Homo sapiens: one gene and its partners. The protein of the gene in region 1 interacts with the protein of each later gene in a pairwise test. Each region holds a gene or a part of one and is shown in the gene's direction. Other genes may lie near its edges.

Region 1 (4,350 bases):
GAAAAGGTTACTGGACACCATATTTTATTTTTTTAAGGTGAGAAGAAACATTAGAAGCAGTTGAAGGACAGGAAGCGGGTCCTCTAGGGATGAGGAAGTGTTCTGCTGGATGGCTTTTTAAAATGTTTCCTCCAGAGTCATTTGCCTCATTAACTGTGGTTTCTATCTTAGAAGTCTCTCTTGGATTCTATAAACTGCCTGATTTCTTGTTCCGTTATGAATGTATGCTGCTCTAGTGCCACAGTAATCCCCTCCCACATCCTCACCGTGCTGTCTATAGGCACTTTTTCTGTAGTGGTAACAGTATCCTCTTCATTGTCACTGTTACCATGATTGCCTTGATTCAGAACTGAAGGAGGCCAGCCCTTCCACACTGTGGGTATTTCTCATCAGGTGGGACGAGAGACTGAGAAAAGAAATAAGACACAGAGACAGAGTATAGAGAAAGAACAGTGGGCCCAGGGGACCGGCACTCAGCATGCGGAGGACCAGCACCAGCACTGGTCTCTGAATTCCCTCAGTATTGATTACTATTTTCACTATCTCGGCAAGGGGAATGCGGCAGGAGAACAGGGTGATAGTGGGGAGAAGGTCAGCAGGAAAACATGCGAGCAAAGGAATCTGTCACAAATAAGTTCAAGGGAAGGTACTGTGCCCGGATGTGCACGTAGGCCAGACTTATGCTTCTCTCCACCCAGACATCTCAGTGTAGCAGAGTAGCAGAGCAGCATTGCCGCCAGCATATCTCTCCTAATCCTCCTCAGCACAGACCCTTTACAGGTGTCGGGCTGGGGAACAGTCAGGTCTTTTCCTTCCCACGAGGCCACATCTCAGGCTGTCTCAGTAGGGGGAAGCCTTGGACAGTATCCAGGCTTTCTTGGGCAGAGGTCCCTGTGGCTTTCCACAGTGCATTGTGCCCCTGGTTAATCGAGAATGGAGAATGGCAATGACTTTTATGAAGCATACTGCCTGTAAACATATTGTTAACAAGACACATCCTGCACCGCCCTAGATCTCTTAAACCTTGATTCCATACAGCACATTTCTGTGAGCATAGGGTTGGCGCTAAAGTTACAGATTAACAGCATCTCAAGGCAAAACAATTTTCTTAGTACAGATCAAAATGGAGTTTCTTATGTCCTCCTCTTCTACATAGACACAGTAACAGTCTGATCTCTTTCTTTTCCCTACAAGAACAGTTTGTGCTATTTCACCATCGGCTGTTTCTACTGGTGGCATCGTGTCTGCACTCCCAAAAGCTGCAGGTTTTGGAGCATTTCAGATTTTAGGTTTTTGGATTAGGAATGCTTAACCTTGGCCGGGCATGGTGGCTCATCCCTGTAATCCCAGCACTTTGGGATGGGGGGCCAAGGTCGGCAGATCAGTTGAGGTCAGATGCTCAAGACCAGCCTAGCCAACATGGTAAAACGCCATCTGTACTAAAAATACAAAGATTAGCCAGGCATGGTGGCACGTGCCTGGAATCCCAGCTACTCAGGAAGCAGCGGCAGGAAAATCACTTGAACCCAGGAAGTGGAGGTTGCACTGAACCGAGATAGTGCCACTGCACTCCAGCCTGGGCAGCAGAGCAGTATCCTGTCTGAAACAAAAAAGGAACGCTAAACCTTTAGCTCAGACAAGTTATTAAGAAAAATCAAGATCACTTTAAGATATGAAAAAAAAAAAGAAAGGCCAGGTGCCGTGGCTCACGCCTATAATCCCAGCACATTGGGAGGCAGAGGCAGGTGGATCACTTGGGGTCAGGAGTTGGACACCACCCTGGCCAATATGGTTTAACCCCGTCTCTAACAAAAAACTCAAAAATTGGCCAGGCGTGGTGGCAGGCACCTGTAGTCCAGCCTGGATGACAGACTGAGACCCTGTCTCAAAGAAAAAGGATGAAAAATCTACTTAAAAGGCTTGTTATTGGCCAGGTGCGGTGGCTCACGCCTATGATCCCAGCACTTTGGGAGGCTGAGGCAGGCGGATAACCTGAGGTCAGGAGTTCGAGACCAGCCTGACCAACATGGAGAAACCCCCTCTCTACTAATAATACAAAATTAGCCAGGCATGGTTGTGTGCACCTGTAATCCCAGCTACACAGGAGGCTGAGGTAGGAGAATCACTTGAACCTAGTAGGCGGAGGTTGTGGTGAGCCGAGATTGCGCCATTGCACTCCAGCCTGGGCAACGAGTGAAACTCCATCTAAAAAAATAAATAAATAAAGGCTTGTTATTGATAGTAAAAGAAGCTCTCAATTAGGATTTTACAAGCTCATTTTCATCAAACATGGGAAATTTCTGTGCAGAGCTTCATCTGAGAAACTTACTTGGGATTTTTTGATGTGATCATTTTCAGTTACCTGTCTCAGTGGAACGTGATGCCAGTTGTCATGAGTAGCAATAGTAATAAAACTTGTTGCTAATATTTTGGCAACCTACCTTAAGCCACACATTTTGTATGGTTACATGTAATATGTGTCTTGATCTCTGCAGCAGCCATATTAGTTAGCTGCCATTATTCATTTTTTAGATGGAAAAACAGAGACAAAAGTGTGTTTAAGTAACTTGTCCAAGGTCACTTAGGGCCATGATTTTGACCTAGGCAGACTTATTCCTGTGTTCTACTCTTAACTACCACACTCTTTTGCCAGCTAAGAATGTCAAGTGGAGCCAAGTACAATTTGTGGTCAGCTGATTCCTTATTAGGACTCAGATGTTTCTAGATCTTACAGCTTGGCCAGTTGTAAATGAAGAGGAAAAAAAAGCAAGTGGGAGTTTTCTATTCTAGTGGACAGTAGTGACTCAGATGCTAGGGAGTATATATATCATTTGTCCTGTAAATGCCTCTGATGATCCATGGAAAGGTAGAATAGGCTCCCTTTCTGTCAGGTGGCCCAAGGAGGACATACACCTGAGTGGATACAAGTGTGTAGCTAAAGGGAAGAAAAATAGAGTCTGAGCTGGGCACAGTGGCTCACGCCTATAATCCCAACACTTCGGAAGGCCGAGGCGGGTGGATCACCTGAGGTCAGGAGTTTGATACTGGCCTGGCCAACATGGTGAAACCCCATCTCTACTAAAAATACAAAAGTTAGCCAGGTGTGGTGGCTGGCACAATGATGATTTTGCCGAGAATATAATGTACTTGAAGGGAAGAGGTTAAAGTGAGGGATGGGAGGCCTGTAAATCCACCTTGTTGGGTGTTACTTCCAGAGTCAGGACAGAAATGGAGAAACAAAGCAGGCCAGATGGCAGTAGCTTGGACCCATGCTTTCCTTCAGTGAGGTAGCCCCAGCTGATGCTGGCCGTGAGAGAGGGCAGCCCCAGTGTGGCCATATCTTCAGGTTCTTCCAGAGAAGCTGGAAATCCATATTTTCTTGTAAAATACCTCAATTTTATTCACCGATTTAATGGGAGCCTTAGTGAAGGGGAATGATCCCTCCCAAAGTCTCAGGATCATTGTGAAGATGAAAAAGCACAGGTATTTCAGGTGTGCACTGGAGCGCTTACTGATTTCCCTCAAGTCCAGGGTGGGCAAGCATGACTCAGTGCCCAAGAAGGCTCTGGAAAGGGGAGAATGCATCTGCTCTCAGTGGAGAATGGGAGGGCTGGCCCGTGTCATTGCATTTATGTTTCGTGGGAAGCTCCCAGCCCTCATTCCCATAACGTAGTGTCCTTTCTCCTACATCCCCACCTCAGGGTCAGTGCCCTCAAGCTCAGACAAGTCCAAATCCTCTCCCCATGGTATCTGTCCTCTCCCATGTCCACTGTATGAGTCCCTCCCAGGTGTCTCGTTCTAAAATATTTCTGCCAGGCTTAATGGGTGCTGCTCTCTGTATAATGGATGGTCCAGATTGACAAACTTTTTCTGTAAAGGGCCAGATCTTAATGCTTTGCAGGCTTTATAATCTTAGTTGCAGCAACTCAGTTCTGTCATTGTCTTGCAAAAACAGCTATAGACAATCTGTAAACAAATAGGCATGGCTGCATTCCAGTAATACTTTATTTCCAAAACCAGGGAGTAGAAACAGTTTAGTGATTCCTGGTCTAAATCAGTGTTTTCTATACTGATTGTTATCTGCTCTTTGGCTGGATTTTGACCCTGGGATCATCTTGGTCACTGTGGTCATGAAGTACCTGGCAGAGAGAGTTAGGTAGCCAGAAAGCATTTGTTGTGCAAACGAAGGTCCCACTGATTCCAGAGACTTCTCTTACTCTGCCCAGCCTAAGGAGGCCTGTCCCTCTGCCGTGCAACCCCAGCTGCAGTTCAAATCTTTTTTTTTTTTTTTTTCCTGAGACTGGGTCTTGCTCTGTCATCCAGGCTGGAGTGCAGTGACATGATCATAGC
Region 2 (4,350 bases), 180 kb from region 1:
TTTTTTTTTTTTTGAGATGGAGTCTCACTCTGTTGCCCAGGCTGGAGTGCAGTGGCATGATCACAGCTCACTGCATTCTCCACCTCCCAGGTTCAAGTGATTCTCCTGCCTCAGGCTCCTGAGTAGCTGGCATTACAAGCACGTGCCACCACACCTGGCTGATTTTCGTATTTTTAGTAGAGACAGGGTTTCACCATGATGGCCAGGCTGGTTTTGAACTCCTCATCTCAGGTGATCCACTTGCCTCGACATCCCAAAGTGCTGGGATTGCAGGCGTGAGCCACTGCACCTGGCCAAAGCTTGTCAATTCTATCTTTTTGAAAAATCAACTTAATTTCATTGATTTTTTTCTATTCTCTATTTGATTTATTTTTCTGTAATCTTTATTATTTTCTTCCTTCTACTAACTTTAGGTTTAGTTTGTTCTTTTATTTCTCATTTCTTGAGGTGTAAAGTTAGGTTTTGTAATTGAAATTTGTCTTTTTGTTTTAAAATTAGGTGTTTATCCCGAACTTTCCTTTAGTACTGCTTTTGCTGCCTCCCATTAAGTTTGGTATATTGTGTTTTTGTTTTCATTTATCTCATGTTATTTTCTAATTTATTTTTTTATCCATTAGTTGTTCAATGGTGTATTGTTTAATTTTTACATATGTATGTTTTTTTCCAGTTTTTCTTCTGGTATTGTTTTTAGTTTCATTCCATTGTGGTTGGAAAAGATTCTTGATATAATTTAAATCATTTCAAATTTGTTAAGACTTGTTTTGTGACCTAACATGTGGTCTGTCCTGGGGAATGGTCCATGTGCACTTGAGAAGAATGTATATTCTGCAGTAGTTGGCTTGTGTATTTTGTATATGTCTGTTAAGTCCATTTGGTCCATTCTCCCTTGGGTTTTTTTTTTGTCTAGTTGTTCTATTTGCTATTGAAAGTAGGATTTTGAAGTTTCTTACTATTGAATTGCTGTCTATTTCTCCCTTCAGTTCTGTCATTATTAGCTTTATATATTCAGATGTCTGATGGGTGTGTATATAATTAATTGTTGTAACTCCTGGTGAAATGGCCATTTCATCATTATATAATATCATTATTTGTTTTTTGACTTAAAGTCTATTTTGTCTGATATTAGCATGTCATCCTGCTCTCTTTTGGTTACCATTTTAATGGAATAGCATTTTCTACTCCTTTACTTTTAGCCTATGTGTCAGTAAATACAAAGTGGGTATCTTGTAGATAGCATATAATTGGATTTTGTATTTTTATTAATTCTGCCACTCTGTTTTGAGAGTTTGCTTCTGTTTACATTTAAAGTAATTATTGATAGAGAAGGATTTACTACTGCCATTTTGTTAATTGTTTTCTGTTAGTCATGTAGGTCTTTTGTCCCTCTTTTCTTCTCTTGCTGTCTTCCTTTGTGTTTTATTGTTGTTAATTTTTGTATTAATATGCTTTCATTTTGTTCTCTTTTTGTACTTTTTTTTTTTTGAGACGGAATCTCATTCTGTCACCCAGGCTGGAGTGCAGTGGTGCGATCTCGGCTCACTGCAAGCTCCGCCTCCCGGGTTCAGGCCATTCTTCTGCCTCAGCCTCCCGAGTAGCTGGGACTACAGGTGCCCACCACCTCTCCTGGCTAATTTTTTGTATTTTTAATAGAGATGGGGTTTCACCACGTTAGCCAGGATGGTCTTGATCTCCTGACCTCGTGATCCGCCCACCTCAGCCTCCCAAAGTGCTGGGATTACAGGTGTAAGCCACGTGAGCCACCGCGTCTGACCCTTTTTTTGTGTATATAACTTCTAAAGGTATTTTCTTTGTGGTTTCCACAAAACATCTCATAATTATCATGGTCTATTTTAAGCTGATAACAACTGAACTTAAATCACATGCACTCTATACTTTTATTCCCCACTACACGTTTTACGTTATTGATTCACAATTTACAGTTATTTATATTGTGTATCCAGTAACATAATTTTAGCTATAGTTATTTTTAATATCTTTGTCTTATAACTTTTATACCATAATTAAAAGTGTCCAATTCACTTGCATTAAGGACATGACAAAATCACTTTTAAAATTTCTTTAAAATTTATTATTTGGCTGTCATTTTTTTCAATATTACTCTTGCACATACTTTAAAGAGTCAAAATAGTTCCAAAAAGCTCACTATTAAAAAACAACAATTTCCACATACACGATGGTTTTGGCTTCATTTCCCTTGCTCTTGAGGGAACCACTTTCAGCTCTTTCAATTCTCTATTTGTTCCAATTACATAATAATAATTTTGCTACTTTTTGATTTTTGTTTTACCACTGACTTCCCACCATGGAAGGTGGAGATTGATCTCTTTTTCAGTTTTCCTTTTGCCACATAGTAGCACTCTTTTACCCCCCATTCACGCCTCATGTTTATGTGATCATTTTGTTTAGATCAACATTCAGTGTTTGCATTATTCTGACTACGTAAATGAAATTCAGCTGAGCCAAATAATATACTTTTACTTTTCCCTGTATGCAGGGAAATGCAGGTAATTAATAGAAATTGGGGTTGGGCGTGGCGGCTCACACCTATAATCCTAGCACTTGAGAGGCTGACAGGGCAGAATCGCTTGAGCCCAGGAGTTCAAGACCAGCCTGGGCCACAAAGTGAGACCCCCGTTTTTATTTTAAAAGTTTTTTTAAAAAAGAAATTGTAGGTATCCTCTTGAGGTTGTGGTCTAAAGGTGAATAATTCCTTGATAAGTTCTAAGCTGTCCTAGTTCCTTGGTTAGTTGCAAGAGATGAGACTTGAGTAGAGCTTAGAGAACCTCTGTCTGGGCCATGCTGGATGACTGAGTTATACATCTCCTGTCTTTCCTACCCCTTTCTCTCTCCACACCTCTTTTTTACCCTCAGCGGATAGCAGGCTCCAAGCTCTCTCCCAGGCTCCAGTATTTTGGTCAGTCACTGAGTGGGGGCCAGGACCTCACAATGGATGGACTGGTAGACCTGACTGTAGGAGCCCAGGGGCACGTGCTGCTGCTCAGGTGAGAATGCCTTTTGGAGTCAACCGGACATTCTCCCTTGAAGGAATGTTTCCTGTTTGAAGGTCCCTGATGGTTTTCTGGTGTCCCTTTAGGTCCCAGCCAGTACTGAGAGTCAAGGCAATCATGGAGTTCAATCCCAGGGAAGTGGCAAGGAATGTATTTGAGTGTAATGATCAGGTGGTGAAAGGCAAGGAAGCCGGAGAGGTCAGAGTCTGCCTCCATGTCCAGAAGAGCACACGGGATCGGCTAAGAGAAGGTGAGGCTTGGTGGATGAGTCTCAAGAGGTTAAACGACCGAGGACATGAATGGGTGCTGCAATCCACTCTGCCCAGCCTTCTGGCTGTCCTGAACTGAGTTCTCACAGGCTCTGACAACCTTCTCCAAGCCTTACCTGAGTGAGCAGGCTATTGTCCTGCTGGGTAGGGAAGTCCAGTGGACCTCCCTAAAGAGGTGAGCATGTGGCACTTCCTTACTCACTCAGTTCTCCAGAGAACTGAAGGCCCCATGCCTGTGAACAAACTATGTTTTTGTTTTTTAATAAACGGAGAGAAAACCTATTTGGGGAGATTGAATTGATGAAGCTAAACAGAGATTTACAAAGCACTCACATACGCATTTTATCACCAGTGACTTCTTCCCTTGTTCCTATTCTCAAAGAGTAGAACTGTGTTTGGGGTGGGAGAATAGTAATGACAATACTAAGAATAACTGTCTCTAGTAGTGACAGCACTAGGAATAACTGTCTCTAGTAATGACAGTACTAGAAAGAATTGTACCCTCTTTAAAAGTAAAATTATTAGCTAGGCATGATGGCATGTTCTTGTAGTCTCAGCTACTTGAGAGGCTGAGGTGGGAGGGGAGGATCACTTGAGCCCAGGAGGTTGAGGCCAGCCTGGGCAACATAGCAAGACCCATCCCTAAAAAATGATTACCTTTCTAGGAACAGTTTTCCTGTGCTGAGGAGATAGCATTCCAGATATGAGAGCAGCCAGCATGGCTAGAAATTAAGAGCAAAATGTTAGAGAGTAGGGAATTGAAGAAGAGGTACCCTTAAACCTACATAGAAGTCCCCCTCTACTCTTTGGCTGACTCTTAAGACACGAATGCCTAGGTCAGTACTCCAAGACACCCAGTAGAAAACAGCAACTGAAAAGCCAAAGAGCTGATCAGAGAATTCAGCAGCTCCTCAGTGCTGGGGAGACAGAGATTTGAGAGGCCTTGGTAAATACCTTGGTCTTTCCATTGAGACAACTGACTAGCAACCAAGAGAAACAATATACAATAGAAATAGACCCACAGGTGATTCAGAAATTAGAGTGATTGGATA
Region 3 (4,350 bases), on another chromosome or scaffold:
TTCAAATGTGCAAGAAATGATCTTATTCTTTCAATATCTTGTCATTTTAAAAATCCTACAGCAAAAAGATCTGAAAACCTAGGTAAAGCAAATAAGCGGGAAAAATGTTTGTAACATGTATGAAGACTTGCTAACCAATAATGAAAATGACATATCCCTAGAAATGGGCCAAATTCATAAATAAGCACCCACTAACAAAAAACTACAAATGGCCTTTAAGTCTATGAGAATACTTAATTTTATTCATAAAGAGAAATTAAAAATGAGACATCATATTTCACTCATCAGATTAGCAAACACAAAACAACTTGGCAAAAGCATGGAAAAACCAGCATTATTGCTGGGAATGGAAATCATTCAACTTCTCTATCAACTGTTATCAAAAGTGAAAATGCAGGCCCGGGTGTGGTGGCTCATGCCTGTAATTCCAGCACTTTGGGAGGCTGAAGTGGGCAGATCACTTCAGGTCAGGAGTTCGAGACCAGTCTGGCCAATATGGTGAAACCCCGTCTCCACTAAAAATACAAAAATTAGCTGGGTGTGGTAGAGTGTGCCTGTAATCCCAGCTACTTGGGAGGCTGAGGCAGGAGAATCGCTCGAACCTGGGAGGCAGAGGTTGCAGTGAGCCAAGATTGCGCCACTGCACTCCAGCCTGGGCAACAGAGCGAGACTCCATCTCAAAAAAAAAAGTGAAAATGCACGTGCCTTCTTATCCAATAGTTCCATTTCCAGGAATGTGCACAAAGGTATATGTAAAAGAACATTCACTGCAGGCATTTTTGGGTGGGAGGGTGGCAAAAGGTTGGAAACCACCTGCCTATCCATCAATAGGAAATTAGTTAAATAAATTATAGTATATCTATACAATGAATTACTGTGTAACCAGTAAAAAGAATGAAGTAGAGCTATACTTATTAATATGTTAAAAATAAAGTGGAGGCCAGGCATGGTGGCTTCATGCCTATAATCCCAGCACTTTGAGAGGCTAAGGTGGGAGGATCACTTGAGCCCAGGAGTCTGAAAGCAGCCTGGGCAATGTAGGGAGACACAATCTCTACAGAAAATTAAAAAGTTAGCCAGGCGTGGCGGTATCCGCCTGTGGTCCCAACTACTCAGGGGGCTGAGATGGGAGGATCCCTGGAGCCTGGGAGGTCGAGGCTGCGGTGAGCTGTGATTGTGCCACTGCACTCCAATCTGGGCAACACAGCAAGACCCTGGCTCAAAAAAAAAAGTGGACAAGACTATATTCCACTTTTGGGATATATATTGAGCATCAGTGCCAGGCTTTGTTCTAGGCACTGGGCATAAAGCAGTGACCAAAGTAGACACTACTCCCAATCCTCTATGAGCTTTCATTTCAGAGGAGGAGTTTCACATATGCATGTATCTACACAGAATACATCTGGAAGAATATGCAGTCATCTGATGACATTAAGTGTTCCTGGGAAGGAGGCCTCAGGGTCAAGGATGAGAAGATTTCTTTTCACTCTAACATTTTGTACCATTTGAAAGTTTTATAAGGCATGTATTAATTTTTCCAAAATTAAAATTTTAAATTACAAAAATTGCATGTAGCAGAACAGAGAAGAAAATTTTTAAAGCAGGCAGGAGGATGGGCAGCCTGATAGGCTGTACCTTGCATCCTTAGTTAGGTTCTTGCTCCGTGTTGCTGCTTGAAGGCTATACAGAAAGAATCTTTGCCTCCTTACCCTATTTAGAGCCACTGCTGACTCCACCGGTTTGAAATAGTAAAGATTAATTTTCCACAATGAGATATTGGCATTGCTCCCAAATATTTCATGGAAGTGGCATGCCTTCTTTGAGGCAGTTGTCTTAGTCATTAAGAGTTCTTTCCAGCAAAATCGGGGCATCAGTGCCCCACACTGGATTGGCGGGTGGTGGGGGGGTGTCAGTGCTTTGAGTCAGACCCAGTCAGGCTTAAAACTCCTAAAGAGACAATTTCCAGATAACTTCAGCTTTATTTTTAATGCTTTTTGCCAATAATTTGATCCCATCAGAACAGCTCCCATGGTACCATAATTCATATATCCTGTTTTTATTTGTATAGGAACCTAGGAGAAAGAGAAGGAAAATTGAAAATAAATTAAGTCAAATGCAATACTTGTGCTAAAAATGTTGTCAAAAGTTGAGGCCACTTCTAGGCAAAATGTTGGAGGCAGAGTTTGCCTTTCAGTCTCTTTCTCATTTTCAAAGTTTTCCTTTCTGTCTTGCGTTGTGTCTTCAGATGCCTCCACATTCTGCCTACCACTAGAGCACCCACTCTCCTATCTGCCTAGAGCACACACATCTGTCATCATCAGGTGCTCATCCAGGGTTCACCGCCATCAGGCAAAGGACCACTTAGCTTATCTTTTTCATAAACTAATTTATGCTTAGATATGAATGACTACCCAGGCTGCCTAAGCTCTTAATAAATCAGAAACTTGCTGCAGAGATATAGAAGTTTGATGTGAAACAAGTTCATATTCAATTGGAGGTATCTCTAACAAACATTAAAGTGATTAATCTCACTAGTAATACCACCAGCACCCTCATTTTACAGAGTAAGAAACTGAGGCCCAAAAAAAGTGTTAATTGGACCATAGTTAATACTGACCTTGCCTGCGTTACATTAGGCATTGTAATCCAATACCTTGGATTACATTATTTTAAAAGTTGCAGTGTAGACCTTAAGTAACTGTTTAACAAACAACCTCTTGATTAAATAAGCATTTAAAAGTAAGTTGTTATTAAGACCTAACATTAGCTATAACTTTATTTTAGGTAGTACTTGAAGAAGTCTTTCTTCTGCAAAATATCCTTGTCTCATGTCACAGAACAACCCTGCATGTCTTGAAATGCATGTGACTTGTTAGTGCTTAAATAACAATACATGCGGTATGTATATATTCTTTACCTTAATTCCTACTTCTTTGATCTGCTTCTCTAAATATAAGTAATTCCGTAGCAAATGCATATTTTCCTCATTTTTATACTTTAGTTTTTTTTAAAAAAAAAAAAAAAACAAGAAAAAGAGGTAATTGGCAATATATCCTTTTTTTTTTTTTTTTTTTTGAGATGGAGTCTTGCTCTGTCACCCAGATTGGAGCGCAGTGGTGTGATTGATCTTGGCTCACTGCAGCCTCTGCCTCCCGGGTTCAAGCTATTCTCCTGCCTCAGCCTCCGAGGAGCTGGGATTACAGGCACACGCCACCATGCCTGGCTAATTTTTGTATTTTTAGTAGAGATGGGGTTTCGCCATGTTGGCCAGGCTGGTCTCGAACTCCTGGCCAGCCAGGCTGATCTCGCCCTCCTGGCCAGGCGCAGTGGTATAAGCCAAATAAGAATTGCTTGAACCTGGGAGGCAGAGGTTACAGTGAGCCGAGATCGCGCCATTGCACTCTAGCCTGGGTGACAGAGGAAGATTCTTGTCTAAAAAAAAAAAGTGGTATAAGCCACTGCGCCCGGCCAATATTTTCTATGTTTATAGCAAAATTGTTCAAAAACTGCATATGTACCTACAATATTTTTTCTTAAGAAATTCAAGTTTTGGGCTGGGCACAGTGGCGTATAGCTGTAATCCTAGCACTTTGGGAGGCCGAGGTGGGTGGCTCACCTGAGGCTAGGAGTTCAAGACCAGCCTGGCCAACATAGTGAAACCCCGTATCTACTAAAAATACAAAAAATAGCTGGGTGTGGTGGCTTGTGCCTGTAATCCCAGCTACTTGGGAGGCTGAAACACAAGAATCACTTGAACTCGGGAGGTGGAGGTTGCAGTGAGCCAAGATCGCGACACTGCACTACAGCCTGGGCAACAGAACAGATTCTGTCTCAAAAAAAAAAAAAAACGAAAAGAAAAGAAATTTGAATTTGTGTTTTGAGTTTGCCTTGAATTATTGTCAGGAGACAATAATTCTGTCATAAGGAGATAACTGGAAAAAATAGGAATGGGTTTTATAAAACAATCATTGACTCAATCTCTAGCTCTTCTACTCTAAAGTCAGGTAATATGTGGTGCATTAGGTTAGGACTTTTATGTTAGTCATATGATGCATGGGTAGATCTTTCTATGTTTTCTCTTTGAAAACTACTAATCTGCTACTCCTTTTGGCTATAACTCACAAACTCTTTTCTCTTCAGACTATATAAAGACTTTAGCTAGAATGCTTCACTTTTTTATTAAAGAAATTGCTGTTTCCTTCCAAGGACAAACATTTTAAAAATAAATGATATGGGTCATTCATTCGGCAAATATTGGACTGCCTGTAGTAGATTAGGCACTGTGTAGGACACTGGCAATATACTGATGACACAAGCTACCCGCTGCCCCTTAGCAAGTCATTTTTGCAA
Region 4 (4,694 bases), on another chromosome or scaffold:
ATAAAAGGCATCCAAATAGAAAGGGGAAGTCAAATTATCTCTGTTCACTGATGATATGATTCTATACCTAGAAAACCCTACAGATTCCTCCAAAATACTCCTAGACCTGATAAATGACTGGCAGTTTCAGGATGCAAAATCAGTGTATAAAAATCAGTAGCATTACTATATACCAACAATTGTCAAGCTGTGAGCCAAATAAAGAACAGAATCCCAATTACAATAGCCACACACAAAAATAAAATACCTAGGAATACATCTAACCAAGGAAGTGAAAGTGAAAGATCTCTACAAGGAGAACTAAAAAACACAAATAAATGAAAAACATTCCATGTTCATGGATTAGAAGAATCAATATCATTAAAATGTCCATACTGCTCAAAGCAATCTACAGATTCCACCCAATTCCTACCAAATTATCAATGTCATTTTTCATAAAATGGAATCATTCTACCAAAAAGACACCTGCATGTGTATGTTTGTCACAGCACTATTCACAATGGCAAAGTGATGGAATCAACTTAGGTGCCCATCAATGGTGGACTAGATAAAGAAAAAATGGTACATACACATCACGAAATACTATGCAGCTATAAAAAAGAATGAAATCATGTCCTTTGCTGCAACATAAATGCAGCTGGAGGCCTAAGTGAATGATCCTAAGTGAATTAACACAGAAACAGAAAATCAAATGCTGTATGTTCTCACTTTTAAGTGGGAGGTAAACAATGGGTACACGCAAACATTAAAGATGGAAACCATAGACAGTGGGGACTCCAAAGTGGGGGAGGGAGGGCGGAGGACAAGGGTGGGAAAACTGCCTATTGGGTACTATGTTCACAATTTTGGTAATGGGTTCAATAGAAGCCCAAACCTCAGTATTATGCAATATACCCATGTAACAAACCTGCACATGTGCTCCCGAATCTAAAATAAATATTTTCAAAAAGCAATTGACCTATATTATTAACATTTTAATCTACCTGTATATATGTTTTAATCTGCATGTGTTCATGCTTTGAAATATGGTACAGGTACTATGACAATCCCTGTTCTGTAGGGGAGGAAGAAGAGACACATCTCTTCCCCCACATCACAAAGTCAGGAAGGAACAGACCTCACGGAGTCCAGTCTGTCACTGGCTCATGCTTTGTGCCCTTAAAAGGCAAACTGGATAAGTGCCATTCTAGAGAATCAGACAAAATTCAAGTGGAAGAGAGGGGAGGGGAAGAAGACGTCAGCTGGGGCCTGTTTGGAGCATCCCAGCTGAGGCTGCGCAAGGAGGGAGGCACGCAGTTGTGGAATTTGTTCCCCTTTTTGCATACTGACCAGCCCTGGCAACGGAGCTCAAGGCATCTTTGTGCCACTGCTCAACAGTGAGTGATGTCATGGGCACGGCCAGGTCTTTATCAGTTCTGCCGGATAAATAGCCAACTGCACTAGGTCTGGAGAGACAGCAAGGTGCTGTGCGGCAGAGCATTTGGGGTCTCAAAGAAGCAGGTGAGCCTGGGCCCGAGGGGCTGGGTGGAGGAGCACCTTGGTGCTTCTCTGCTGGGGAAGGGACAGGGGACAGGGCATGCTCAGGAAGACAGGCAGGCTGACCCCGCCTGGAAGGCACCCAGAGACAAGAGGGGTGGGCGTAGTGACCTCGTGCCCTTTTAGGGGAGATGCTGCTGGCCAGAGGCCGTTAGGGCCCCCACTACCAACTCCATGTTACTCTCTCTCACCAGTGGCCACCACCATGGATACAGGCCCCGACCAGTCCTACTTCTCCGGCAATCACTGGTTCGTCTTCTCGGTGTACCTTCTCACTTTCCTGGTGGGGCTCCCCCTCAACCTGCTGGCCCTGGTGGTCTTCGTGGGCAAGCTGCGGTGCCGCCCGGTGGCCGTGGACGTGCTCCTGCTCAACCTGACCGCCTCGGACCTGCTCCTGCTGCTGTTCCTGCCTTTCCGCATGGTGGAGGCAGCCAATGGCATGCACTGGCCCCTGCCCTTCATCCTCTGCCCACTCTCTGGATTCATCTTCTTCACCACCATCTATCTCACCGCCCTCTTCCTGGCAGCTGTGAGCATTGAACGCTTCCTGAGTGTGGCCCACCCACTGTGGTACAAGACCCGGCCGAGGCTGGGGCAGGCAGGTCTGGTGAGTGTGGCCTGCTGGCTGTTGGCCTCTGCTCACTGCAGCGTGGTCTACGTCATAGAATTCTCAGGGGACATCTCCCACAGCCAGGGCACCAATGGGACCTGCTACCTGGAGTTCTGGAAGGACCAGCTAGCCATCCTCCTGCCCGTGCGGCTGGAGATGGCTGTGGTCCTCTTTGTGGTCCCGCTGATCATCACCAGCTACTGCTACAGCCGCCTGGTGTGGATCCTCGGCAGAGGGGGCAGCCACCGCCGGCAGAGGAGGGTGGCGGGGCTGGTGGCGGCCACGCTGCTCAACTTCCTTGTCTGCTTTGGGCCCTACAACGTGTCCCATGTCGTGGGCTATATCTGCGGTGAAAGCCCGGTGTGGAGGATCTACGTGACGCTTCTCAGCACCCTGAACTCCTGTGTCGACCCCTTTGTCTACTACTTCTCCTCCTCCGGGTTCCAAGCCGACTTTCATGAGCTGCTGAGGAGGTTGTGTGGGCTCTGGGGCCAGTGGCAGCAGGAGAGCAGCATGGAGCTGAAGGAGCAGAAGGGAGGGGAGGAGCAGAGAGCGGACCGACCAGCTGAAAGAAAGACCAGTGAACACTCACAGGGCTGTGGAACTGGTGGCCAGGTGGCCTGTGCTGAAAACTAGGTCCTCCGGGGGAGGAGGGTGTAGCTGGCGTGTCATCCTCAGGGCGCTTCCTCGCTCACGCCAGGAGGGACTTGGAGTGGCGAGCTGGGGCCCGATGGGGCTTGGGGGCAGAGTAGACATCTAGCCTCCCTAAGGGTATGCGCGCTAAAGCCCAGCTCTCGATCTCACCTCCATCCCCATCCACCCACACACTATGGATTGGGCTCTGGGAAGGGGTCAGGGTGAGAGGCTGCTCTGGAGAACAATGAGGTCCTCATAGCAGCAGGCAGCTCCTGTGTTTTCTTGAGGGTGGCAGAGGAGCTAAGAGCAGTGCCCAGGTCTGAGGGGGCTGCCCAGTGAGTGGCAGGGGCAGGAGAGGGGAGAACCCCATCCTCAGAGCTGCTCCCAGCCAGCGAGTCAGGAGCGGGGGAGACAGGGCTCCAGGGATGAGGCCGCATTCTGCTCCCACAGTGCCTTTTCCAGAAAGTTCCCATTGCTCAATAAATGTGGATCATCAGAGACATTTATGAACAATGACAGAAGAAAAATTACCCAAATAAATGTGGAAGCAAGCAAAAGAGAACAGTGTTTCCTTCTTCTCCTGTTTTGTTCTGGTGGTGTGCTTGGGCCGGGTGGGACTGGTGGATGGAAGGAGAAAACACCAGACTCTGGAGGAAAAGGGCCAAACACCAGGATGCCTGGATGCTGGGAGAGGATCTGGCTTGCAGGGATGAAAATAACAGCTGCCCTGTCTAAAGGACTTGGCCTGACACATCATCTCCTTCTATCTCTCAATAGCCCTGTGAGAGGTACCAGCATTATCCCCAGTTTCAGATGAAGGAGTGGCCCAGAGAGGTGACATCTCCTACCCGAGATCCCATAGCTGGTGGGCGATTGAAGTGGGACCAGAAGCTGGTGTCAGTTGACTCTGACACCCATGCCCCTAAGCCACTCTGCTGTTCTCCATCTGTGTGTCACCTGTGGTCACCTGGCCCAGTCAGATGAGGCTGTCTGAGCAGGACAAATGCAAACAGGCTGTGATAAGGAACAGAAGTAAATGCAAAGCACAGTGAGTATCTGTGTGAGTGCATCCTCTCCCCAGTAAAGAAGACTTCTTGAAAAGTATAGATTACGATACTTGGAGTCAATGATTGGGCAGGTGACTCACAGTGGGCACCCGATGCTCCTCGATCTTAGCTAATGCAGGATCTCTTCAACTTTTTACATCCTTGTCCCCTTCAGAAGCCTCTTTGGATATACATCTTTCCTACACAGCACATTCCTCTGCCTGCTTATGCAATTTCAGTGCAACCAACACACTGTCGGTTTATGTGTTGTGGCCCTTTACAAAGACAGAAACTGGCTGGGCGCAGTGGCTCATGCCTATAATCCCAGCACTTTGGGATGCCGAGGCAAGAGAATCACTTGAGGTCAGGAGTTTGAGACCAGCCTGGCCAACATGGTGAAACTTTGTCTCTACTAAAAGTACAAATATTAGCCGCATATGGCAGCATGCACCTGTAAACCCAGCTTCTTGGGAGGCTGAGGCAGGACAATCACTTGAGGCCAGGAGGCAGAGGTTGCAGTGAGCCGAGATTACACCACTGCACTCCAGCCTGGGTGACAGAGTGAGACTCTGTCTCAAAAAACAGAAGGAAGGAAGGAAGGAAGGAAGGAAGGAAGGAAGGAAGGAAGGAAGGAAGGAAGGAAGGAAGGAAAAGAAAGAAGGAAGGAAAGAGAGAAAGAAAGAAAGAGAGAAAGAAGGAAAGAAAGAGAGAGAGAGAAAGAAAGAAAGAAGGAAGGAAAGAAAGAAAGAGAGAAAGAAAGAGAGAAAGAAGGAAAGAGAGAGAGAGAGAAAGAAAGAAGGAAGGAAAGAAAGAAAGAAGGAAAGAGAGAGAAAGAAAGAAAGAGAGAAAGAAGGAAAGAAAGAGAG
Region 5 (5,144 bases), on another chromosome or scaffold:
TTATTGATATTGCAGGGATCAGCCTTGACCATCTATTTTTAACTGAAGGATTTGCTATAGGGCATTGTCCCAGTCAGTGTGGGCCCTCAAACTTGGGAGTTCAAAAGAAATCAGACATCTAAAGTAAACAAGGTTTTGGGCTAGTGACCATTTTATTTAAAATGGAATTGGGGACTCACACAACATTGGTACCATCCTCCTTCAAACTGCCCCCATCAAAATGCAATATGTCCATGACACCAGAAAGGACAGGAAGGGGGGGTGGGGTGGTGAAGCCAGTGCTTAGATTTTTTTTGTCTAGTTTGCCCTCCAAGTTGTCTTCAATTTAGTAATCATACATTGCAGATTTCATAAAACAATCTAAGTTTCAACTATTTTTGCTCCATTGTTTTCACGAATAAACTTGTAGGATAAAATGCCCCTATTTTTGGTTTGGAAATGTAGTCAAAATAACCATTTTTTATACTACCAATAGTCAGTCCCAGATGATGGGACGGGAGTGGGCCTCAGAGAGCATATGTCCATGCCCTCCAAGCATCATTCCTCATTAAGCCACATTAGAATTTAATCCAAGAGCCTCCTGGTGAGCAAAACCATCATATCCCCATTTAACAGATGAAGGCACTAAAGTCTAAAAATGTTAGCTGACATTGATTGAACTTCCGCTACTCAAAAGTATATGTAATTATAAGTGAAACGTGGTGAGAAAGGCTATTACTTTGACAAATGGCACCAGAATTCTTTGGAGTGTTAAGGCTCCTTTCAAAGAGGGAGACCACCCTGCTGAAGGTTTGTTTGTGTTTCTTTTTTATTGTTTTGATCTTTTTAGAAAGCTCTTTCCTTTTATGTTTAGTTGACACATAATAATTGTACGTATTTGTGATACACAGTGATATTTCAATACATGTATACAATGTGTAATGATCAAATCAGGATAATTAGCATATTCAGCATCTCAAACATTTATCATTTCTTTCTGTTGGGAACAATCAAAATCCTCTCCTCTAGCTTTTTGAGACTATACAATAAAATAGTTAACGGCCAGGCATGGTCGCTCATGCTTGTAATCCCAGCATTTGGGGAGGCCAAGGCGGGCAGATCGCCTGAGGTCAGGAGTCTGAGGCCAGCCTGGCCAACATGGTGAAACCCCGTCTCTACTAAAAATAGAAAAAAAAAAATTAGCTGGGCGTGGTTGTGGGTGTCTGTTATCCCAGCTACTCAGGAGGCTGAGGCAGGAGAATAACTTGAACCTGAGAGGCAGAGGTTGCAGTGAGCTAAGATCGTGACATTGCACTCCAGCCTGGGTGGCAGAGCGAGACTCTGTCTCACACACACACAAAAATATAAAAATTAAAATAATTAATTAATTAATGTTAACCATATTCACCCTACAGCACTGCAGACCACCAGAACCCATTCCCCCTATCTAGCTGTGCTTTTGTATCTATTAGCAACATGCTCCCCATCCTTCCTTCCGCCACTACACTTCCCAGCCTCTAATATCCACAATTCTGCTGAAGGCTTTGAGAGACAAGAGCAAACCACCAATAAAAAATGAAATATGGTCCTTTGGAAAGGACCAACCACTCTTGGTGTGACTCAGGGCAGAGGGATTCACACAACTGACCACTTACTGTCCCTACATCATTAAGATTCTCCCAGCTGATGATAAGGCCTTGGGAAAATGCCCCTAGGCTCATGCGCTCTGGAGAGACGCCAAAGGTTTACTGATGTACAGGCCCAGTCTGCTGCTAAAAGAAACTTTGGGAGGCACAGAAGCCCCAGCTAAGCTTTCACACATCAGCTTTCCCCATCCTCCTCCCCTCAGTGCCCAACACAGCTCTCCCATTCTCTCACTCCCATTGTTTCCCAAACATCCCTCCCTTCATAAAAGCTGTCTGGCTGGGAGCTTAAAATATTGCTGGACAGTAAAACCTACCCATCAGGGCCAATCCAGTCATATCTGCTCAGTCGTGCAGCACAGTAGGGGCGGGGTAGAGAAGTGGGAGGTGGGCTTTTAGGCAGCAAAGGAAAGAGACGAAAGTTGCCATTTTGCTGCTGAGCGCCAAGAGAGAAAGAGCACATATTTCTCCGTGGGACACTCCTTGTATTGGCAAGTTTTCCTTGGGTGATATTAGTTTGTAACCTTCCCCCCAATTGTTCTTTCTCAGCCTAATCTAAGGGCCATATATAGGCTTCTCCAAAAGGAAAAAGGTTGCCAATAAGATTCAGTCTTGGGCTGGGATGGCTAGACTTACACTCCAACTCTGAAAACCCTCTTCAAGTTGACCTAAGAACTGGCAGAGGTTTGGAAGGGAGAGGAATGCTGGAATAATCAGCAGGATGGGGAAACAGAGATGTCCAAACTCAAACTACAATTTGACTTCTTAAGCTCTTTTCATGTCTACAGGAATCCACAGGGACCTAAACCAAGTATTTGATATTTATGAAAAAGTTTTGTGCCCTTTTCACTCAAATTCTACAATAGAAATAATAGTCATAATTACTGAATGCTGTGGGGGTAGCGGAGGCTTCGTGCTCAGCATTTTCCATGTTGGAGCATTTAATGGAGCACAGGAAGGGATCTGGCTAAGGACCATAAAATTCCTCCTAGGAGCAGGTTCTGTTGTCTATCTATGAGAACTGCTGGCTAGTGGCTGTTCTAGAAACTAGAAAAGAGGCACTTTCCACCTGGTTACCAACCAGAGTGGTAAGTGGCCATTGAACGCTTTGGATAACTTATTAATGGATGTATATGTGTTATTCTGCCTCTTCAAAACCAGAGGAGGGCTATGCTGTAATGGGCTTAGATCTAGAAGACCAGGGCTCACAGCCTAGCTCTGCCCTCACTAGCTAAGCCCCCATCTTGGAGACTCATTTCACCTCCCAGCCTGTCTTTTTGTCTGGTAATGGGGATTGATAATGCCAAGTTCACTGGTTCTCAGACATCCATCTGGGGATCTGTCAGTTCTAGCTCAAGATGAAGGTTTCCACAACCTGTGACCAAAATGTGACAATGATAAAGTTAACAATGTAGTAAATGTTTCACCAAGTTAAGTGTGTTCAATTTAAAGGCTTGTCTTTTATTCTGAAGTTATGTCCTCTCCAGTTTTGTGGTGTTAAAATCCCCTTTTATGAAATGATGATGAAAATAGACTGTAGTTGTAGTTAGTAATTTAATAACTCTTTTTTTTTTTTTTTGAGACAGAGTCTCGCTGTGTTGCCCAGGCTGGAGTGCAGTGGTGTGATCTCAGCTCACTGCAGCCTCCACCTCCTGGGCTCAAGCAATTCTCCTGCCCCAGCCTCCCAAGTAGCTGGGATTACAGGTGCCCCACCACCGTGCCCAGCTAATTTTTGTATTTTTAGTAGAGATAGGGTTTCACCCTGTTGGCCAGGCTGATCTTGAACTCCTGACCTCAAGTGATCCTCCCACCTCGGCCTCCCATAGTGCTGGGATTACAGGCATGAGTCACCACGCCCAGCCAATAACTCTTATTTTTATGTCCTTGTTTGGCAAAATAAGGAGTTGGTATCCTTATGTTGGTCACACTAGTTTGTTATTATTATACTAGTCTGTGAAATCTAAGTCTGAGAACCACTGGCCTAGTTCACAGCTTGTTATGAGGACTGAAATAAGATACGTGAAAATGTATCACTTAGATCAAGGATACCCAAACATAAGGTGTTATTTTAATCATTACCTCTAGCCATCATTTTCTGGTGGGATGTTCCTGGCCATATATGGACACCCTGGGGTTGGAGGCTTGAACTCTATCCATTTATTTTCCATCTGTAATAGGTCTGTTCACTAAATTTTCACAAGCAAAATAAAACAGAGAATTATCTCTGAGAAAGAGAAGAGAAATAGTCTTCCTTTGGTTCAGATTTCTCCCTGCTCCCACAGAACGCTTTGCTTCTCTGATCTGACTTCCTTTAAATTTTCACTGTTAGAAGTCAGGAAACCAATACATTTCCCTTCGCAGCTCTAAAGTGTCTCTCCTTAACAGCACAGTAGGCCTGTTTCAACATCATGGGGTTGGAAAGATTGTGTCCTAAATTACAGTTTCTCTCCTTCAGTTATCACAAGAAACTGTAACTAGACATTTAAAAAAAAATACAATCTTAGCATGGCGGCTTAGAGTATAGAAAGACATGGGCTTGTTTGGCTTTGGTTTCAAAATTACTAATGAGTGGTCAGGAACGACTTCTTGTGTCATGAACATGTATCATGACACTCTTGTCAAGAATTGTTGGCCTTCCAGTTTATATATTTGATCTCATACAAAATAAGCAGTTTTGTGTCTCAGAGCAGCTGGTTGGGGATCAATTTACTATCCTTTTTGTTATTTACCATTTTTTACAAGTTCTTAATTTTTCTGCTGTTAGCTGTAGCAAGAGGACTGAAGTTCCTTGGTCTCTAGTATTCATATTACAGGAATTTGGGGATTGAGAATTTCAGATTTCACAAGGATTACTATTAGAACCATGCACTGCTGTCTATGGAGCTCCCACTCTGTGAAGGGCTTTGTTCTGTGTTGTGATGGTTCACAAAAGATGAGGCCAAAATGGTTCCTGCCCTCCAAAACCTTTTGATACTAAAGGGGGGAAAACAAGATTGGTTAACATACAGGACTGAGAGCATGTGCTCATCACACACATTCATGTGGGTATGTGAGTGAAATACACTGTCAAAAATGAACTGATATATCAATGAGGGTAAGTATTAGCAAGATAGTTAAGATTCAGTAAGATATTAGTAAGATAGTAAGATATTAGCTAAATCTTATAGAAGTACAGTTATTCAAATTGCTGTTTTAACATAAATTTTAGAATGAACTATTTGATAAGAAATGAACTTTTTCCTGGCTCTGCCACCAGTGAGCTTTATGCTTGGGCTGCTTACCTGATTGTGATGTTTCCCACCTATTTTCCAAAAGGCAATGGGAATGGCTACCACTCTTACCAGGGCAATTACTAGACTTAACTATAGTCTGAAGAGTTAAAAATAGATACATGTGGCTGGGATTGAGTTGCTGGTTCCGATTCCGAGCTGCTGGGTCCTTCCCCCTCTCCATTACCCATTTCTCCAAGGAACTCTTCCCAATGCCAGACCCATGACTGGGGATGCCACAGCTGCTGTCACT
Region 6 (4,242 bases), on another chromosome or scaffold:
TCAAGCTAGCTGTTCCTTTTTACTTGGGGGATTCAGCCCCTTCCCATTTTACCCACCAACTCTTAATCATCTCCCCTGCTCTACTCAACCATCTTTTTCTGGACACTCTTCCTGCTTCCTGCATAACCTAGTTTAGAGCAGTCCCCTTATGCTAGTCTCTAAAGCTTCCTGTTCTTATCACAATTTTAATCAAAGTATACTCTCTCTCTTTTTTTTTTTCTTCCTGAGATGGAGTCTCACTCTGTTGCCCAGGCTAGAGTGCAGTGGTGCGATCTCAGCTCACTGCAACCTCTGCCTCCCAGGTCCAAGTGATTCTCCTGCCTCAGCTTCCCAACTAGCTGGGCCTACAGGCCTATGCCACCATGCCGGGCTAATTTTTGTTTAGTAGACATGGGGTTTCACCATGTTGGCCAGGCTATTCTCCAGCTCCTGACCTCAGGTGACCCACCTGCCTTGGCCTCCCAAAGTGCTGGGACTACAGGTGTGAGCCACCACACCCAGCCCAAAGTATACTCTTAACCCAGGGTGGGCACACACTGCTACGATCAATGATGGTGTGAGGTAATAGTGAGTGGTGGGGACTGTGGAGGGAATATGGCCACCGAAAGGACGGTTTCACTTGGCTGCAGCAGAGAGACTGGTTCCATGAGGGTGTGCACTCATTGTTTCTGGACCTCCCATATTTTCAAAGGAAGCCAGAATGTGGAGTTTTAAAGTGAAATGCCCCCCAATATTTAAGTACTGACAATTTTTAAAAACAATGTAGGCCAAACAAAACACATAGGTGGGCCGGGCGCAGTGGCTCATGCCCGTAATCCCAACACTTTAGGAGGCCGAGGCAGGTGGATCACCTAAGGTCGGAAGTTAGAGACCAGCCTGACCAACATGGAGATACCCTGTCTCTACTAAAAATACAAAATTAGCCAAGCGTGATGGTGGATGCCTGTAATCGCAGCTACTCAGGAGGCTGAGGCAGGAGAATGGCTTGAACTGGGAGGCGGAGGTTGCGGTGAGCTAAGATCATTGCACTCCAGTCTGGGCAACAAGAGCAAAATTCCGTCCCCAAAAAAAAACAAAAACAAATTTTTTGTTTGTTTAGTTTGAGCCACATAGGTGGCTCCAAATTTGTAGGTAGCCTGTGGTTTAATATCTTTCTCTCCCGTTTAACTCAGCTCCACGGGGCACATGGCATCTCCCTCTGCTCATCACAATGTCTGGATCAAACAAATGAAAAACAAAAACATGATGGCCTCTCCCAGCAAAGCTCCAGGGTTGGAAAGAGTCCCCTGGCAGGGAATTGGCACCCCGTCGTGCCCATCCTCTCTCTCTGACTGCCTGCTGGAAATGCCCCCATCTCCCTTTGAGTCCTCCTCCCGGGCAACCCCTGTGACCTGTAACCTCTGTCCTGAAATCATCACAATGGCCAGAGTGGCCTCAGCTCAGGGCCTCTGTGACATCACCAAGGGCCTGGCACCAGGTGCCCAGTCTCCCAGTTGCGAGGGCAAGCAAACCCGTCATGAGCAACTCCCTTCCCCATCTCTGCTCACCATGTGGACGCTGAAATCGTCCCTGGTCCTGCTTCTGTGCCTCACCTGCAGCTATGCCTTTATGTTCTCTTCTCTGAGACAGAAAACTAGCGAACCCCAGGGGAAGGTGCAATACGGAGAGCACTTTCGGATTCGGCAGAATCTACCAGAGCACACCCAAGGCTGGCTTGGGAGCAAATGGCTCTGGCTTCTTTTTGTTGTTGTGCCGTTTGTGATACTGCAGTGTCAAAGAGACAGTGAGAAGAATAAGGTAAGGATGGCTCCATTTTTTTTACACCATATTGATTCAATCTCAGGAGTCTCAGGGAAACGGATGTTCTAGTGAGTCTAGACGGCACCGTTGGGTATAATGAACCGACCTCATGGTCCTGGGCAAAGCTGGCAAATTCACTTCCTGATGTATCCTTAGTGAAGACAATTGTCCCCAGATCCACAGATACTGGGACAAAGAGTGGAAAGTGACCTCTGCTTACTGGCTCACAGATTTTCTGGTTAGATGGATTTTTTCAAATGTAGGATAGATTCAAGAACTTATGGTGTGTTTCAGAAAGTCAAAATTATTCACAGGGCCAGATTCACTAGCCCCTGTTTTTTAAATTCTTGCTAGTGTTTGACTTACTACAAAATCCTGAGCTAAATGGAAATGATATCATTATCCCAACAAAATATGAGACTTGTGCTGAAGAGATAAAGATGTAAGGTAGTTTGAGCTGGTCCTCAAAGTGACCACAAACAACTCTTTCAGGTAGAAAAGGAAGGGGAGAGAAAGTGCGTTCTCCCCTAGAAAGACCCAGCACTTCATAATCCTGTGCCCAAACTGATGAGAGCAGGGATCGGCAAACCCTTCCCGTAAAGGGCCAGGGAGGGTGCGAATATCTTCAGCTTTGTGGGCAGTATGGTCTTCTTGCAACTACTCAAGTCTGCTGTTGTAACACGAACTGTGTCAAAACCAACAAAGTTCACAATATTACTGACCTTGAGTATCTTTCCTGACAGGAGCAGAGTCCTCCTGGCCTTCGAGGCGGCCAACTTCACTCTCCATTAAAGAAAAAAAGAAATGCTTCCCCCAACAAAGACTGTGCATTCAATACCTTAATGGAACTCGAGGTGGAGCTTATGAAATTTGTGTCCAAAGTGCGGAATCTTAAACGTGCCATGGCAACAGGTAGTGGCAGTAACCTCAGGCTTCGAAAGTCAGAGATGCCTGCAGATCCATACCATGTCACGATCTGTGAAATATGGGGAGAAGAAAGCTCTAGCTGAATGGATTTGTGTGTCAGGAGAGAAAAAAGTTGAGTGTTGACAAACTGTATGCAAACTAATAAAACTATTCTGAAGAAAAGAACTTCCATGTTTGAGAGCTTGCTTCTTTTCTTTTTTTCACTAGAAGAAAAAGTGAATGGGAGACCAGTAGCCATAGCAGTGATGGTTTTGTTTTTGCCTCTCTCACGTCATCTAGAGCTGTGGGTGGTGAGAAGAACACCGAAAGCTACATAATAGTACGTGATGAGCTCGTGCTTCTGTTCAATGGCCGCGGGTGGACGATGGAGCTAGGGAAATCTGGGATAAGATGCTGACGTCACTTCCATACAAACTCTTGCTCTCTATAGCATCTATTTGTGCAAGATGCAGAACTGCTTTTTATCTTTGATTTATTACAAAAGACAGCATTAATGATAGTTTTAAAATGGTAAAATGATTCAATTAGGAGGGGTGTATTCTAGAGTTATCTGATTCTCTCACCACAAGAGTCCTTTCACTCATTCCCTGTCAAAGGTTCCGTGTATATTGACTTTTCCTTCTACCACACTAGCAGTTACATTTGTCAATAATTGGATTTAAAAAAAAAAAAAGGGGGATGAGGCAGGAGAATCGCTCAAACCCGGGAGGCAGAGGTTGCATTGAGATCGCACCGCTGCACTCCAGCCTGGGTGACAGAGCGAGACTCCATCTCAAAAGAAAAAAACAAAAAGGAGAGGCCCGGCATGGTGGCTCACACCTGTAATCTTAGCCCATTGGGAGGCCGAGGCAGGAGGACTGATTGAGCCTAGGAGTTTGAAACCACCCTGGGCTACATAGTGAGACCCCATCTCTATTATTTTAAATTAACAAGAAAACGGAGAAAAATTCATTCATCCTATGCCATTGGAGTTTTGGATACAAGTGTGCTAACCAGGGGCTCCCAGATTAATTGACATGTTCTTTATCCTACTTATTCAAAATGTGGATATTTTACATGTTACTGTGGCTGATGGCATCTCTGTACATACTTAGGTGCTTGCCTAATGGTGATTTCTATTTTCCTCTCTCCTACAGTGTTTATTGATTGGAATTCTGCTGTAAGAAGAGCTGTTCCTTCGCCGATGATTGATGGATGGGTTTCTGTATGGACTTACAGGTGTGTTTTTTTTTTTGGATTATTTTCTGGCTCCACCTTTCCCACCTTTGGCGTTAGGAGCTGCTTCGGGTTGGCACTTGTGTTCTGTGAGCAAGCCCCTTCCTCTTTTGAGCAATTCCTTACTTTCTGGCAACCCAAGATGCTCCATGCTCATCTGGTTCATTGCCTGCCTTCATCCTGGAATCAGCCACTTCCCCAAGGGGCCAGGTTCCCTTTCTTGGAGAATGGTGACCTGCCCTCCTGCAGCCAGGATCATGACTTATCTTAAAATCCTTCATTTAATTCATCTGCAAAATG
Region 7 (3,738 bases), on another chromosome or scaffold:
ATTCGCCAGCAGAGCCCAGCTCCTCCGCTTTAAAGCAGCAATGCCTCTGGCCCCCACCCCACCCCCGCCACCCAGGCGCAGCAGGTGCTTCCCGTCCCCCCAGCCCTGACACTCAGGCACCTGCTTGCTCCTTGCAGGTGTTTCAGACTCTGCACAGCACCGGGCAGTCGTCCATGGTCCGGGACTGGGTCATGCTGTCCCTCTCCAACTTCACGCAGAGGGCCCCGGTCGCCATGGCCACGTGGAGCCTCTCCTGCTTCTTTGTCAGCGCGTCCACCAGCCCGTGGGTCGCGGCGATGTATCCTCTCTGGGTCCCTGGTGCTGGCCCCGTTTCCCTTGTCAACACCGAGGCTCATGTTTCATGATAAGGTTTTGAAACCTAACCTTTGCAAAAACCCCACAGATGCCAGGGTGACAGGCCCTCAGCCCCAGGGAAGTAAAATGCTGACAGGGGTACAGAAAGGAGCACGTCCAGACATTTGCTGACCAGGGCCTCTCAGAGGGGCCGGTGTATGGCAGGAGGGTCGCAGCTGAGGGGCCTTTCTGTGGAGGGCCTGGGTGAGGGGAGCGAGGGTGGGCGGTGGTCTCTGCAGACGTCCCGCCCACTCGCGGGCTCTGTGTGGCTGGGCTTCTCCTGACACTGCTTCTCATTAGCTTTGGTCATTGTGCCTCGATCGCCCTCTCGGGGAAAGGCTTAAGTAAAGATCCAGTTCCCACCCCCAGATGCTGGCTGCCAGGAGTTTCCCTTTCCACAGCCCTTCCCCAAGACAGACCACAAGAGCCTCCAAGCAGCACAGTTGTCCTGGTGCTGACAGCACAGCCTTGCCCGGCGTGCCTGGCACGGCTCTGCCCTCACTGCATTGGAGCAGGGCTAGTGGAGGCCAGCGGAAGCACCGGCCACCAGCGCTGCACAGGAGCCAGGCCAGGTGAGTGCTGCCGAGTGGGTGCCCTGCCTGCAGGGCATCCAGCCAGCCAAGGGTTGCAGGAATGGAGGTGGAGGCGCTGATGCAGCTGGAGGCATCCAGGTGGCCCTTCCGGGGCTCTGCTCGCTCTCCAGGCTCCCTGGACCCCTTTGTAGACTGTTTCAGGAGAGGAACTCCCAGGTGAGGACAGGGAGGCAGCATTCCCCTCATTTGCCGGCCTTTTTCCTTAACTCCTGCACCAGCCTCCCACATGTCATCAGCAGGATGGGCAAGCTGGAGCAGGTGGACGTGAACCTTTTCTGCCTGGTCGCCACAGACTTCTACAGACACCAGATAGAGGAGGAGCTCGACCGCAGGGCCTTCCAGTCTGTGCTTGAGGTGGTTGCAGCCCCAGGAAGCCCATATCACCGGCTGCTGACTTGTTTACGAAATGTCCACAAGGTCACCACCTGCTGAGCGCCATGGTGGGAGAGACTGTGAGGCGGCAGCTGGGGCCGGAGCCTTTGGAAGTCTGCGCCCTTGTGCCCTGCCTCCACCGAGCCAGCTTGGTCCCTATGGGCTTCCGCACATGCCGCGGGCGGCCAGGCAACGTGCGTGTCTCTGCCATGTGGCAGAAGTGCTCTTTGTGGCAGTGGCCAGGCAGGGAGTGTCTGCAGTCCTGGTGGGGCTGAGCCTGAGGCCTTCCAGAAAGCAGGAGCAGCTGTGCTGCACCCCATGTGGGTGACCAGGTCCTTTCTCCTGATAGTCACCTGCTGGTTGTTGCCAGGTTGCAGCTGCTCTTGCATCTGGGCCAGAAGTCCTCCCTCCTGCAGGCTGGCTGTTGGCCCCTCTGCTGTCCTGCAGTAGAAGGTGCCGTGAGCAGGCTTTGGGAACACTGGCCTGGGTCTCCCTGGTGGGGTGTGCATGCCACGCCCCGTGTCTGGATGCACAGATGCCATGGCCTGTGCTGGGCCAGTGGCTGGGGGTGCTAGACACCCGGCACCATTCTCCCTTCTCTCTTTTCTTCTCAGGATTTAAAATTTAATTATATCAGTAAAGAGATTAATTTTAACGTAACTCTTTCTATGCCCGTGTAAAGTATGTGAATCGCAAGGCCTGTGCTGCATGCGACAGCGTCCGGGGTGGTGGACAGGGCCCCCGGCCACGCTCCCTCTCCTGTAGCCACTGGCATAGCCCTCCTGAGCACCCGCTGACATTTCCGTTGTACATGTTCCTGTTTATGCATTCACAAGGTGACTGGGATGTAGAGAGGCGTTAGTGGGCAGGTGGCCACAGCAGGACTGAGGACAGGCCCCCATTATCCTAGGGGTGCGCTCACCTGCAGCCCCTCCTCCTCGGGCACAGACGACTGTCGTTCTCCACCCACCAGTCAGGGACAGCAGCCTCCCTGTCACTCAGCTGAGAAGGCCAGCCCTCCCTGGCTGTGAGCAGCCTCCACTGTGTCCAGAGACATGGGCCTCCCACTCCTGTTCCTTGCTAGCCCTGGGGTGGCGTCTGCCTAGGAGCTGGCTGGCAGGTGTTGGGACCTGCTGCTCCATGGATGCATGCCCTAAGAGTGTCACTGAGCTGTGTTTTGTCTGAGCCTCTCTCGGTCAACAGCAAAGCTTGGTGTCTTGGCACTGTTAGTGACAGAGCCCAGCATCCCTTCTGCCCCCGTTCCAGCTGACATCTTGCACGGTGACCCCTTTTAGTCAGGAGAGTGCAGATCTGTGCTCATCGGAGACTGCCCCACGGCCCTGTCAGAGCCGCCACTCCTATCCCCAGGCCAGGTCCCTGGACCAGCCTCCTGTTTGCAGGCCCAGAGGAGCCAAGTCATTAAAATGGAAGTGGATTCTGGATGGCCGGGCTGCTGCTGATGTAGGAGCTGGATTTGGGAGCTCTGCTTGCCGACTGGCTGTGAGACGAGGCAGGGGCTCTGCTTCCTCAGCCCTAGAGGCGAGCCAGGCAAGGTTGGCGACTGTCATGTGGCTTGGTTTGGTCATGCCCGTCGATGTTTTGGGTATTGAATGTGGTAAGTGGAGGAAATGTTGGAACTCTGTGCAGGTGCTGCCTTGAGACCCCCAAGCTTCCACCTGTCCCTCTCCTATGTGGCAGCTGGGGAGCAGCTGAGATGTGGACTTGTATGCTGCCCACATACGTGAGGGGGAGCTGAAAGGGAGCCCCTCCTCTGAGCAGCCTCTGCCAGGCCTGTATGAGGCTTTTCCCACCAGCTCCCAACAGAGGCCTCCCCCAGCCAGGACCACCTCGTCCTCGTGGCGGGGCAGCAGGAGCGGTAGAAAGGGGTCCGATGTTTGAGGAGGCCCTTAAGGGAAGCTACTGAATTATAACACGTAAGAAAATCACCATTCCGTATTGGTTGGGGGCTCCTGTTTCTCATCCTAGCTTTTTCCTGGAAAGCCCGCTAGAAGGTTTGGGAACGAGGGGAAAGTTCTCAGAACTGTTGGCTGCTCCCCACCCGCCTCCCGCCTCCCCCGCAGGTTATGTCAGCAGCTCTGAGACAGCAGTATCACAGGCCAGATGTTGTTCCTGGCTAGATGTTTACATTTGTAAGAAATAACACTGTGAATGTAAAACAGAGCCATTCCCTTGGAATGCATATCGCTGGGCTCAACATAGAGTTTGTCTTCCTCTTGTTTACGACGTGATCTAAACCAGTCCTTAGCAAGGGGCTCAGAACACCCCGCTCTGGCAGTAGGTGTCCCCCACCCCCAAAGACCTGCCTGTGTGCTCCGGAGATGAATATGAGCTCATTAGTAAAAATGACTTCACCCACGCATATACATAAAGTATCCATGCATGTGCATATAGACACATC

Evidence for each region.
Region 2: the proteins of RUSF1 (region 1) and ITGAM interact in binary tests that used the Homo sapiens proteins (3 or more experiments, as listed by UniProt).
Region 3: the proteins of RUSF1 (region 1) and FKBP7 interact in binary tests that used the Homo sapiens proteins (3 or more experiments, as listed by UniProt).
Region 4: the proteins of RUSF1 (region 1) and GPR42 interact in binary tests that used the Homo sapiens proteins (3 or more experiments, as listed by UniProt).
Region 5: the proteins of RUSF1 (region 1) and GJA8 interact in binary tests that used the Homo sapiens proteins (3 or more experiments, as listed by UniProt).
Region 6: the proteins of RUSF1 (region 1) and FAM209A interact in binary tests that used the Homo sapiens proteins (3 or more experiments, as listed by UniProt).
Region 7: the proteins of RUSF1 (region 1) and HTT interact in binary tests that used the Homo sapiens proteins (3 or more experiments, as listed by UniProt).

The regions. Positions count from the first base shown.
Region 1 is NC_000016.10:31,501,540-31,505,889, reverse strand, and holds part of RUSF1 (RUS family member 1), read left to right. Parts: intron 1-4,350.
Region 2 is NC_000016.10:31,318,349-31,322,698, forward strand, and holds part of ITGAM (integrin alpha-M isoform 2 precursor), read left to right. Parts: intron 1-2,892; coding exon 2,893-3,023; coding exon of another isoform or gene 3,024-3,027; intron 3,028-3,115; coding exon 3,116-3,279; intron 3,280-4,350.
Region 3 is NC_000002.12:178,471,577-178,475,926, reverse strand, and holds part of FKBP7 (peptidyl-prolyl cis-trans isomerase FKBP7 isoform a precursor), read left to right. Parts: intron 1-1,959; exon of another isoform or gene 1,960-2,072; intron 2,073-2,784; exon of another isoform or gene 2,785-2,898; intron 2,899-4,350. UniProt on the Homo sapiens protein: PPIases accelerate the folding of proteins during protein synthesis.
Region 4 is NC_000019.10:35,369,619-35,374,312, forward strand, and holds GPR42 (G-protein coupled receptor 42), read left to right. Parts: upstream 1-1,449; 5' UTR 1,450-1,500; intron 1,501-1,730; 5' UTR 1,731-1,741; coding exon 1,742-2,782; 3' UTR 2,783-3,344; downstream 3,345-4,694. UniProt on the Homo sapiens protein: G protein-coupled receptor that is activated by short chain fatty acids (SCFAs), such as propionate. Hence may play a role in the regulation of whole-body energy homeostasis and/or in intestinal immunity.
Region 5 is NC_000001.11:147,900,749-147,905,892, forward strand, and holds the start of GJA8 (gap junction alpha-8 protein), read left to right. Parts: upstream 1-2,046; 5' UTR 2,047-2,113; intron 2,114-5,144.
Region 6 is NC_000020.11:56,523,261-56,527,502, forward strand, and holds FAM209A (protein FAM209A precursor), read left to right. Parts: upstream 1-1,483; 5' UTR 1,484-1,548; coding exon 1,549-1,797; intron 1,798-2,522; exon of another isoform or gene 2,523-2,543; coding exon 2,544-2,810; 3' UTR 2,811-2,892; downstream 2,893-4,242. UniProt on the Homo sapiens protein: May play a role in sperm acrosome biogenesis.
Region 7 is NC_000004.12:3,238,681-3,242,418, forward strand, and holds part of HTT (huntingtin), read left to right. Parts: intron 1-137; coding exon 138-298; intron 299-1,165; coding exon 1,166-1,379; 3' UTR 1,380-3,738.